Homo sapiens: one gene and its partners. The protein of the gene in region 2 purifies or fractionates together with the protein of the main gene of each other region. This does not show direct contact. Each region holds a gene or a part of one and is shown on either strand. Other genes may lie near its edges.

Region 1 (3,676 bases), on a different chromosome or scaffold from region 2:
GCTTTACACGTACAAGCCTTGTGTTGTGTAAGTTACTGAGGAAGAGACTTGTCCAAATCTGTATGTGCAGAGCAATTTACATGATTTGAGCCCTATTACTTAAATCACTACACAGTATGGCCTGGAAATCTGCAAACGCTTCCAGTTAAAGCAGCTGTTTTTTGTGCCTTTCATGGTGCCTCCAACAATGGCCCCCCAAAGTCAAATAATATTGGGCTAATGGAAAAAATAGTGAATTAACTAGGTTTCCTATTTATATAAAAATTTTGAAAACAGTCCTTGCATTAGATTTATATCAATTATATGTATATCAATTACATGCAGGAGAAGCAACACACCTAAGGTACGCATGCAGTTAAAACCAAATAGAGATAATTGACATCTTCTCCCTCAAGACAACATGAAATTCATCAATACCTGTCATGCAGCTGGTATCTTTCCCGAACTTCTTCCAAAATGATTCTCTTTGGTCCCTCTCCTCCAATTATGAAATTTAAATCTGGATATTTCTGACAGAGTTCAGGTATTATACCACTAAGCAAATCGATCCCTGAAAATATAAAGTTGAATGTTGGAGATATTAATATTTAAACTTAAAAAAATTCACCAGAACGACTGAGAATCCACTTATTTTGAAAAGTATTAGCTATGCACTCCATAAAGGAGAGAAACTCTCTTAAACCTTTTCCAGGAGTGGAATTGTTTGCAAACTGGCAGTGGTCCCCCAAGAGTTACAATTCTTGAAGACGTAGACCTTGACATGCATTACCTTCCACACACCCAAAATATGGACTATTCTGTTTCATCTCAACAGACTATTCTTTAAGTTATTCACTTGTGTTTATACATTGCGTACTTCTAAAAAAGGTATATTTAAGGTGGCTAAGGTTTGAGTTCGTTTTCTCCAGAGCAGGCAGCTGATTGGAGATCTGGGTCTTTTCCCAGCTTTTTTAACCAGCAAGCCCATTGATCGTGGGGAAGTTTCAAGATCTATAAAATAAAGATACCTATGTACCTAAAGTCTCTTTCAGCTATAAAATTCTATCAGTCTGTGATCCCACTTACTGCCACAGGAAAAGGCTAAGCAACGAAATCTAACTGCTGCCTCCACTTTGTTTAAAATGTGGCTGGTACAGAGAATTTTGCAGTGAACACTACATTATCGCAAAATTTAAGTTCAAACCAGCTATAGCCCACTTTCCTGGAATGAGGGTAAATGAAGGCAGCAGGGCATCAACTGTTAGATCACTACAGTCCATAGAACAAAAGGATGCATCTTGGCTCCTTTTTTCTCCAAAATGATTTTCTTATAATATATAAACACAATCTCAGGTAATAGAAAACAATAAAGTAAATTATGCCCTATTAGTCTGAAAAAGTGAGTGGCTATCCAAAGTCCCAACAATGTCAACACTATTTAAGAATCTAGTTCATTAACAATTACAAAACGTACATATTCAAAAGTAAGAGTAGGCAGGGCGCGGTGGCTCACGCCTGTAATCCCAGTAATCCCAGCATTTCGGGAGGCCAAGGCAGGCGGATCACAAGGTCAGGAAATTGAGACCATCCTGGCTAACATGGTGAAACCCCGTCTCTACTAAAAATACAAAAAATTAGCCGGGCGTAGTGGCGGGCGCCTGTAGTCCCAGCTACTCCGGAGGCTGAGGCAGGAGAATGGCGTGAACCCGGGAGGCGGAGTTTGCAGTGAGCCGAGATTGCGCCACTGCACTCCAGCCTGGGAGACAGAGCGAGACTCCGTCTCAAAAAAAAAAAAACAAAAAAAAAGTAAAAGTAAATATAAAATAATCCACCTAGAGCTAAGTTTATTAATTTTAAAAATGCACACACACATAAGAATTGTATTTCTTAATCTTCCACCCCAAATAGGCAGATCAGTTATAAAATAGATGATATTTTATATCAGATATAAAATAGGAGAAATGACATATATATTATAGGGTCATTTTTATTAAATAATACAAAGTAGAATTCATTAAGTAAACTCTGCTAGTACTTTCAAACTGTTATTGTATGTATCAAAAATTCCCACGCAGCTTTTCTGAATATGAAGGCTTCTCATTAAAATCATAGCTATCTTTGTTTCATGTCTACTAACAAATCACTCAATTGGATTTCTAGATAAACCAGAAGGTAGTTTAATGACTTTTAACATTTAGTCTCCTACAATTCCTTCAATCCATTTTCTTCCTCACCCTTTTCTTTCTCGTACAAGGTTAAGAGCCCATTCTTCAAACAAACAAAAAACAACATAGAGCAATAGTCATAAATGATAATAGCTAACAGTAACAGAGTGCTTGCTATGACAGGCAATATACTTTAAATTCATTATGTCATTTAATCCTGACAAGTATCTCATAAGAAATGGAACTGATTACTATTACCAATGATCTATATTCTTATTCTAAGAATAAGGGCTTTTCCCCACCACTATAAAAAAATTTATTCTGGAGCCTCTAAGAAGGGTATAATGCAATGGAACCTAGAGACTTTCGACTGCCATGTGAACACAAAACAGACAATGAAAATCTCTGATCCAAACTGCTTTTAAAGCTCAGTCTAACAATATTTTTAAGAACCTTCTGATCTACACCTAGGATATGAGTGGCTGGGCATGGGTGGAGGAAGAGGAGAACTTAGCTCCAGAAAAGCTGAACTCGTGTGTCATCTCTGTTACTTACTGTGTAACCTGGGTGAGTTACTTACCCTCTCTGAGACTCAATTTCATGTAGATAACATCTACCCTACAGTTGTTGGGAGGGTCAAATGAGGTATTGTACCACGAACAGGCTTTATCAACTGCAGAATACAAATGTAGGTTGTCATTACCACTACAGAAGGAAGCAGGTGAGCGTGCCTACACATGCAGAGTGCTGGTAAATCCTGACTGAGAGCAAAACAGGCTTGGAAGAGGAGGCTCAGGAAAAAGACATCCAAAAAGCCTGGATAAGGAAAACTTTGATTTATCCTCTCTCTCACTTAAGACATTCCAGTGGGACTTTGATATCTGGTCCAATAAACTCCTGAGGAAATTAATTTGTTAATAAGGAATGGACCATTAATACAACTACTCACTTTTGGGCTACAGGCATGGCTGTTCCTTTTCAGAATGTTACTTTCTGCAGGGTGCCTGGCATCTGGAGAGGGTTCGATAAATAACTGTTCAATTACTGAATTGAGTACAGGAAAGGCCATACCATCACTCCATTGGTGGTTAGCTCAGCTAGTTAAAATACCACATTAGGGAAGTAAAGGTAACAGGTTTAATCTTTGCATGGGTAGTTAATTTTGCTGATCCTTGATCACACTTGTGTCATACTCTTTCTCAGCTAGCCATCTCAAGAAGATATGCTATTTGGTTAAAAAATAAATTAGGTACAATTCCTAAGTTACAAAAAAACACATCACTAATGTCCCAGGAGGAATTCAGAATACAGAATGCCAGTCGGTTCACATGTTCCTGATTAAAGAATGAAAGCATGTCATTGCCTTCAAACCAGAAAATGAAGTTCAGGCCAAGTTTCCTTGCCAACCTCCACTTAAATGGACTGCTGGGTCAATCAAGATTCTCCATTCCAAACGTAAACTGACCAAGGCCCACATCTAGATTTTAGGCCACTCCCTAGCACACTGGCACACCACTGAATTCAGTGCTTGT
Region 2 (3,676 bases):
CCAAATCTCATCTTGAATTGTAGCTCCCATAATTCCCACATGTTGTCAGAGGGACCAGGTGGGAGATAATTGAATCATGGCGGTTTCCCGCATACTGTTCTCGTGATGGTGAATAAGTCTCACGAAATCTGATGGCTTTTTACGGAGTTTCCCCTTTTGCTTGGCTCTCATTTCTCTCTTGCCTGCTGCCATGTAAAACATGCCTTTCTCCTTCTGTCATGATTGTGAGGCCTCCTCAGCCACATGGAACTGTGAGTCCATTAAACCTCTTTTTCTTTTTAAATTACCCAGTGTTGGGTATGTCTTTATCAGCAGTGTGAAAATGGATTAATAGACTAAGGCTTTGGGGAAAGCCTGTTCTTCATTCCCCTTCTCAGCTCCAAGGGGAAGGGAAACCAGCTCTTCAAAAAACTTCCTTGAGCAATGACAATTCTTGTTGCCCATTCCGAATGTTCCTCCATGCCTGACAAGAACTGTACATTTGCTGGCACTAAGTATTATATCTACAGCATGCTGCAAGGCTGACAGAGTGCTGCAAGACAAATGGGGGGGGGTTTATGGACTCAATGGTTTCATTTAATCATACTGTGTGACGTTCGCCTGGACCAAGACAGGGAATTTCTGTATAAAGGCCTAAGTCTGCATAGATGCTGCAATTGTGCATGCAGGTGCACATGTGTGGGTGTGCACACACATTCATCTATGTGCACACCCAATGAGCACAGATCAGTCTGTTTTGTGTGTTGATCAATTTGTTGAAAGATGATAAAACTGTCTGCATTAACTACGTCATGGCAGGAGGCCCCTTACCTTCTGCCTTTGATTTTATTTTTTTCTAAGGTTTGCATTTCCAGAATTGGGCTTTGCAATTAGAATATGATTTCTTGATGAAAATGAACTGGATAATGTGATAGATCTTATTCTGGGCTTTTTATTCTCTTTCGTACTTAGACTGTTGCCTCTGGGGCAAATATTCTGTCTTCTTTGCTTTGCACCATCCCAAGAACATCATCGATGCTGAACAAATAAATAACCAGAGTTGTGAAGTGAAGTCTGAAATTTATAGAACAGGCTCATCTATCAAAATTTGGACACCAGAACACAGAGTCAATTATCACATATTAACTTGCTCTTGTTGGCATTTCAATGCATTTAGAAAAGATACACTTCCTCCACACACACATTCCCCTGCCATACCGAAACACCAGCAAAATTGAGAACACTTCAGACATATCTCAGCTTTCCCTGTGACTCTAAAAACTACTACACACAGCAAAGCTTATATCTGTTTATAAAAGATGACCCTGAAGAGTCTATTTCACATCCAAACTTCCTTAGAATGGAGAGCATCCTAAAGATAACCTTAGATTTGGAAAAACATTTTCATGTAGATAGTCTTACTTGATTTTTATAAGGTTGCAAAGCAGTTCAGGCATCATTGCCATTTCACAGGTGAGCAGACTGACACCCAGATATGTGAACTGACTTTCTGTTAACATGGAAGGAGGGAAGGAAAGAGAAAAGGAAGGGAGGAAGGGAGGAAGGAAGGAGGGAAGGAAGGAAGGAGGGAAGGAAGGAAGGAAGGAAGGAATGAAGGAAGGAAGGAAGGAAGGAAGGAAGGGAGGGAGGGAGGAAGGGAGGGAGGGAGGGAAGGAAGGAAGGAGGGAAGGAAGGAAGGAAGGAATGAAGGAAGGAAGGAAGGAAGGGAGGGAGGGAGGGAGGGAGGAAGGAAGGAGGGAAGGAAGGAAGGAGGGAAGGAAGGAAGGAAGGAAGGAAGGAAGGAAGGGAGGGAGGGAGGGAGGGAAGGAAGGAAGGAGGGAAGGAAGGAAGGAAGGAATGAAGGAAGGAAGGAAGGAAGGGAGGGAGGGAGGGAGGGAGGAAGGAAGGAGGGAAGGAAGGAAGGAAGGAAGGAAGGAAGGAAGGGAGGGAGGGAGGGAAGGAAGGAAGGAGGGAAGGAAGGAATGAAGGAAGGAAGGAAGGAAGGGAAGGAGGGAGGGAGGGAAGGAAGGAAGGAGGGAAGGAAGGAAGGCAGGCAAGGAGGGAGGGAGGAAGGAAGGAAGGAAGGAAAAGGAGAAGGGAAAGGGGAGAGAGGGAAGGAGGAAGGGAAGGGAAGGAATAAAGAGGAAAGTATGGAACTATCTTTATAGCAATTGATTAATTCCTCAGCCCGATTTAGTAACAGCAGCAGCATCAGAAACTAATATTTTTAATACTAACAGAACTAATAGTGATAACAGGAGTGTTGTAGTAATTAGTAGCAATAACAGTAGTAACATTACTGCCTTGTCTTTATATATCATAGAATTTTCCAGGGCAATTTCATGTACAGTTTTGCATTTATTCTTCACAACACGTTTCTAGGATAGTTACTACAGGTCCCATTCCATGATGAGGAAGCTGAGACTTGGGAGAATCACCTTTCTTCAAATCATACAGCACCTAGGTGACCACCTCTGGTCTTCTGACTGTGGTTCCCTGTCCTGGTTCCCTCATCAGCCTGGTGTTGCTTTGCCCACCTGTCCAAGCAGCTAGGAGATACCACCCTGCAGCTCTTACCTCGGGGAGGAAATGTGGGTGGGGGAGAACCCAGGCCAGACACATAGTTGAGGTAAGCATCAGAGATGGCATGGCAGAAAGACAGCAAATTGGAGAGAACCCACTGCAGAAGGCTGGGCTCTCTGGTAGTGGCCTGAACGGGAGTGGTTCCCAAGAAGGATCAGGCTAAGGACAAGAAGGTGCAGACTCTGTCTCCTGGTCTCTCCAAATGATGGTGTCTTTCTGGCTATATCACTCGGCCTTCAGCTTTATCTCCATTTACCCACAGAAAGAAGCCCCTCCTTTGGGTTAAGGGTAAAGCTTTTGATTTTTCCACTATCTGGATTTCAGCCTCCTGATCAGGAAGTTATCACCAGGGGCTTTGATGTGGGCAGATCATACTAAGATCCACACTGCCTGCAACTCTGCACCTCCCCCTTTGGAAAGCACAGTCCACTCCAATGGGTGCAAGGGTTCTTTGGCTATGTCTGCCCAGTGGACCCTGGCTTTATGATGGCAAGCTGTGAACTGACAAGGCAGTGGACAGAGAGCGGAACATCCTGTCACCCACCGTACCTAGCTCATGGGATTCAGGAAGAAAGTAAGAACATGGGTTTTAAAAGATTCCAGAAATCCCCATGATTTCTGCAGTTAATGTGTATGACTTGGTCATAATAAAAAGAAATGTACAAAAATGTTCTTTACATACAGAAAGATGTTCTGGAGGTTATGGAAACAGCATCTAAGTGGGGTAGTATTACCCTGCACAGAAATGGCAATCCACAAGCTAAACACTTGACTCTAGGGGTGTGGATTTGTAACTGAAAGAAGCACAAACCACACAGCCTTTTCCTGACACTGGAGCCTCCCAGCCTTCCTGGTCAAGCAATGGGGAGAGGGCAATTACGACCAGACCTCTAGGATAGTCTTTTAGAAATATAAAGTGGGGAAAGGTGGTAGAGGGGGAGAGAAGAGAGAAGCAGAGCTGTCAGCATGCTTGATGTTAAATAAAACCTACCAAGACTCAGCTGAGAATTTTAGCAGAATCCAAATGTGCTAAAAAAAAATAAATAAATAAAAAATAAGACATGGCTTCCCTCTCTAAGGTTCACAGCTAAGCTTGCTTAGAATCACACATGCC
Region 3 (3,676 bases), on a different chromosome or scaffold from region 2:
ATAATACTCACCACCACAACACAACCTTAGGTCTTTAGATAGTGTTGCTCTTTTTGTTACTTAAAATCCCTGACCAGAGAGTACGTCTTTGGATTGAATCTAGGACCCTGCATTGTAAATTCAGTGTTATTCTAATAAGAACATCAACGGGGGTTAGTTGTTTATAGAACCAAACAGATTCTAAAGTTCACAGGGGAGTAACTGCAAGAACAGCCATAAGATTTTTTTTAAAAGAACAATGGGGAGAAGACAAAGTTGTCTTAAGTAGCTCTCAAAGGTTTTATTAAAACATGATAGTAGGCCAGGTGTAGGGGCTCACACCTATAATCCCAGCACTTTGGGAGGCCAAGGCGGGCAGATCACTTGAGCCCAGGAGTTCAAGATCAGCCTGGGAAACATGGCAAAACCCCATCTCTACTAAAAATAGAAAAAATTAGCTGGGCATGGGACACATGCAGTCCCAGCTAGCTAGCTATTCAGGAGGCTGAGGTGGGAGGATCGCTTGAACCCGGGAAGTGGAGGTTGCAGTGAGCCGAGATCGTGCCACTGCACTGCCGCCTGGGTGACAAAGTTAGCCCCTGTCTCAAAAACAAAAACAAAACATGAGAGTAATTAAAACTGTGCTACTGGCACAGGAATAGACAAATAGATCACTAGGACAGAAAACAGTCCAGAAAAAGACTAACATATATGGAAATTTAGTTTATAATAAGGTAACATTCTAAGTCAATGATAAATTACTAATGGAAAAATGGCCTCTGTCTGGGAAACAAAATGAGAACTCTAGCTTTAAAAGTATACAGAAAAGTAATGCTAAAAAATAAATTTTGGCTGGGTGCAGTGGCTCATGCCTGTAATCCCAGCACTTTGGGAGGCTGAGGTGGGTGGATCACCTGAGGTCAGGAGTTCGAGGCCAGCCTGGCCAACATGGTGAAACCCTGTCTCTACTAAAAATACATAAATTAGCCGGCTGTGGTGGTGCACGCCTGTAATCCCAGCTACTCGGGAGGCTGAGGCAGGAGAATCTCTTGACCCCGGGAAGTTGAGGTTGCAGTGAGCAGAGATTGTGCCACTGCACTCTAGCCTGGGCAACAAAGCGAGACTCTGTCTCAAATATATAAATAAATAAATAAATAAATTTTAAGAAAATATAATGGCTGGGCACAGTGGCTCATGCCCTTAGTAATCCCAGCACCTTTGGAGGCTGAAGCAGGAGGACTGCTTGGGCCCAAGGAGTCCAGCCTGGGCAACATAGTGAGACCCTGTCTCTACACAAAATAAATTTTTTTTAAAAAAATGGCTGGGCACGGTGGCTCACGCCTGCAATCCCAGCACTTTGGGAGGCCGAGACGGGTGGGTCACTTGAGGTCAGGAGTTCGAGACCATCCTGGCCAACATGGTGAAACCCATCTCTACTAAAAATACAAAAATTGGCCAGGCATGGTGGCGGGCGCCTGTAATCTCAAGCTATTCAGGAGGCTGAGGCATGAGAATTGCTTGAAACCAGGAGGTGGAGGTTGCAGCAAGCCAAGATCACACCACTGCACTCCAGCCAGGGCAACAGAGCAAGACTGTGTCTCAACAACAACAACAACAACAACAACAAATTAGCCAGGCAGGGTGGCAAGTGCCTGTAGTCCCAGCTACTTGGGAGGCTGAGGCAGGAGGATCGCTTGAACCCAGGAGGGTCAAGGCTGCAGTGGGCCTTGATAGCACTGCCACTGTACTCCAGCCTGGGCAACAGAACAAAACCCTGTCTTTAAAAAACAAAAAACAAACAAAAAAAGCCCCATAATTTTAAGATAGGAAAGTCTGGCCTACTTAGTAGGCAAAATAAAAACCCTACATGCTGTAAAGGAATAACATGAATTACTTAGGCCTTGAATTTAAAGCTTTTGTATGATGAGATACCATAAATAAGCAAAAGACAAACGATAGGCTGGGATTAGTAAAAAAATCTGCAATGTGCATTACATATGTATAACAGACAAAAGAGCTCTTATATACTAATAGTTACAAAATGCCAACACAATTGAAAAATGGCCAGAGGCTCTACGTAAGCAAGTCATGAGAGAATCATATATAGCCAATTATCACAAAGATGTTGAACCCACCCAGACCTAAACTAGCAAAGATGCTAGTAAGATGAAAATGCAAATTAAGATGAATTATATTTTTAGTAGCAAAACCAAAAAAGATTATCATCAGGTTGTAAGGAGTTAATACAATTACTTGTGACACAGTAATTTTACTTTTAGGAATCTATTCTACATAAATACACATGTGCAAAGAAATATATGTGCAAGGATGTATACTAGAACATTATTGGGATTAACATGAAATTGGAAATTACCTAAATGTTAGAGGAATGGTTATATTAAGGTATATCTATACTGTGGAACACCTGTGATATTATGACTTGTAAGTTCCTCTGGCTTCCTGGAACAGCTCCTAAAATCCTTAAATCTCCAAAGTGGTAAGTATCTTTTGGATGCTAATGATGACTGATGGCTGGGGGATCCTGGATAGCCTCAACAGGGGAGCTGGTTGCCAGGGGTATCAACCATGAGATCAGTCCCATCCCCCAACCTTGGGGAAGGGAACGGGGTACTGAAGGTTGAGTTGATCACCAGTGACCAATGATGTAATCAATCATGCCTGTGTGATGAAACCTGCAAAAGAACCCAAAAGGACTAGCTTTGGAGAGCTTCTGGATAGCTGAACACACAGAGGTATGGGACCTGGATAGAGGTGCACCTAGGGAGGGCAGGGAAGCTCTGAACCCCTCTCCCCCTCCCCATGTCTTGCCCTATGCACTTCTTCCATCTGCCTCTTCATGTTTCCTTTGTAATAAACCAGTAAGTGGAGGTGTTTCCCTGAGATCTGTGAGCCGCCCCAAAGACGTCCCAAGCAAATTAATCAAACCCAAAGAGGAAGTCATGGCAACCTCTTTATACCCAGCTGGTCAGAATCACACATCACAACCTGGGGCTTACAACTGGCATCTGAAGGGGGGCAGTCTTGTGGAACTAAGCCCTTAGCCTGTGGGATCTGACGCTGTGTCCAGGTGGAAAGTGTCAGAACTGAACTGAATTAGAGGACACCCAGCTGGTGTCCACTGGAGAATTAGTTATTGGTGGTGAAAAATCCCCACACACGTATTGGTGCCCAAACGTGAAGTACTCCAGAGTGTCAGAGTAGGAAAAACCAAAGTATTTTTCCTATGCTTTGGTTTTTCCTATCTCCTTTAGAACTATGCAGCCATAAAAAGAATAGGTAAGCTATACATAATTATGACATGTCAGTTAAAAATAATATTAAGGGCTGGGCATGGTGGCTGATGCCTGTAATCCCAGAACTTTGGGAAGCCAAGGTGGAAGGACTGCTTGACCCCAGGAGTTTGAGACCAGCCTGGGCCAACCTGGCCTCTACAAAAAATAAATTAAAAAAATTAGCTGGGCATGGTGACACACACCTTAGTCCTAGCTACTCAGGAGGCTGAGGTGAGAGGATCACTTGAGTCTTGGGAGATTGAGGTGAGAGGATCACTTGAGTCTTGGGAGATTGAGGCTGCAGTGAGCCATGACTGAGCCACTGCATTCCAGCCTGGGTGTCAAGGTGAGACCTTGTCTCAAAAATAAGTAATAAAAAATAAAATAGAATTAAAATAACTAAG

The links. Proteins that work in one complex are often made in the same cells at the same time.
Region 1: the proteins of HS3ST2 (region 2) and PIGA purify together in Homo sapiens (affinity purification with mass spectrometry; 2 studies listed by BioGRID and IntAct, with this or other methods). This does not show direct contact.
Region 3: the proteins of HS3ST2 (region 2) and GINM1 purify together in Homo sapiens (affinity purification with mass spectrometry; 2 studies listed by BioGRID and IntAct, with this or other methods). This does not show direct contact.

Annotation. Positions count from the first base shown.
Region 1 is NC_000023.11:15,325,497-15,329,172, forward strand, and holds part of PIGA (phosphatidylinositol N-acetylglucosaminyltransferase subunit A), read right to left. Parts: exon of another isoform or gene 2,818-3,676; coding exon of another isoform or gene 2,725-2,817; intron 551-2,724; coding exon 418-550; intron 1-417. UniProt on the Homo sapiens protein: Catalytic subunit of the glycosylphosphatidylinositol-N-acetylglucosaminyltransferase (GPI-GnT) complex that catalyzes the transfer of N-acetylglucosamine from UDP-N-acetylglucosamine to phosphatidylinositol and participates in the first step of GPI biosynthesis.
Region 2 is NC_000016.10:22,817,048-22,820,723, reverse strand, and holds part of HS3ST2 (heparan sulfate glucosamine 3-O-sulfotransferase 2), read right to left. Parts: exon of another isoform or gene 2,271-3,676; intron 1-2,270. UniProt on the Homo sapiens protein: Sulfotransferase that utilizes 3'-phospho-5'-adenylyl sulfate (PAPS) to catalyze the transfer of a sulfo group to an N-unsubstituted glucosamine linked to a 2-O-sulfo iduronic acid unit on heparan sulfate.
Region 3 is NC_000006.12:149,586,726-149,590,401, reverse strand, and holds part of GINM1 (glycoprotein integral membrane protein 1 precursor), read right to left. Parts: intron 1-3,676.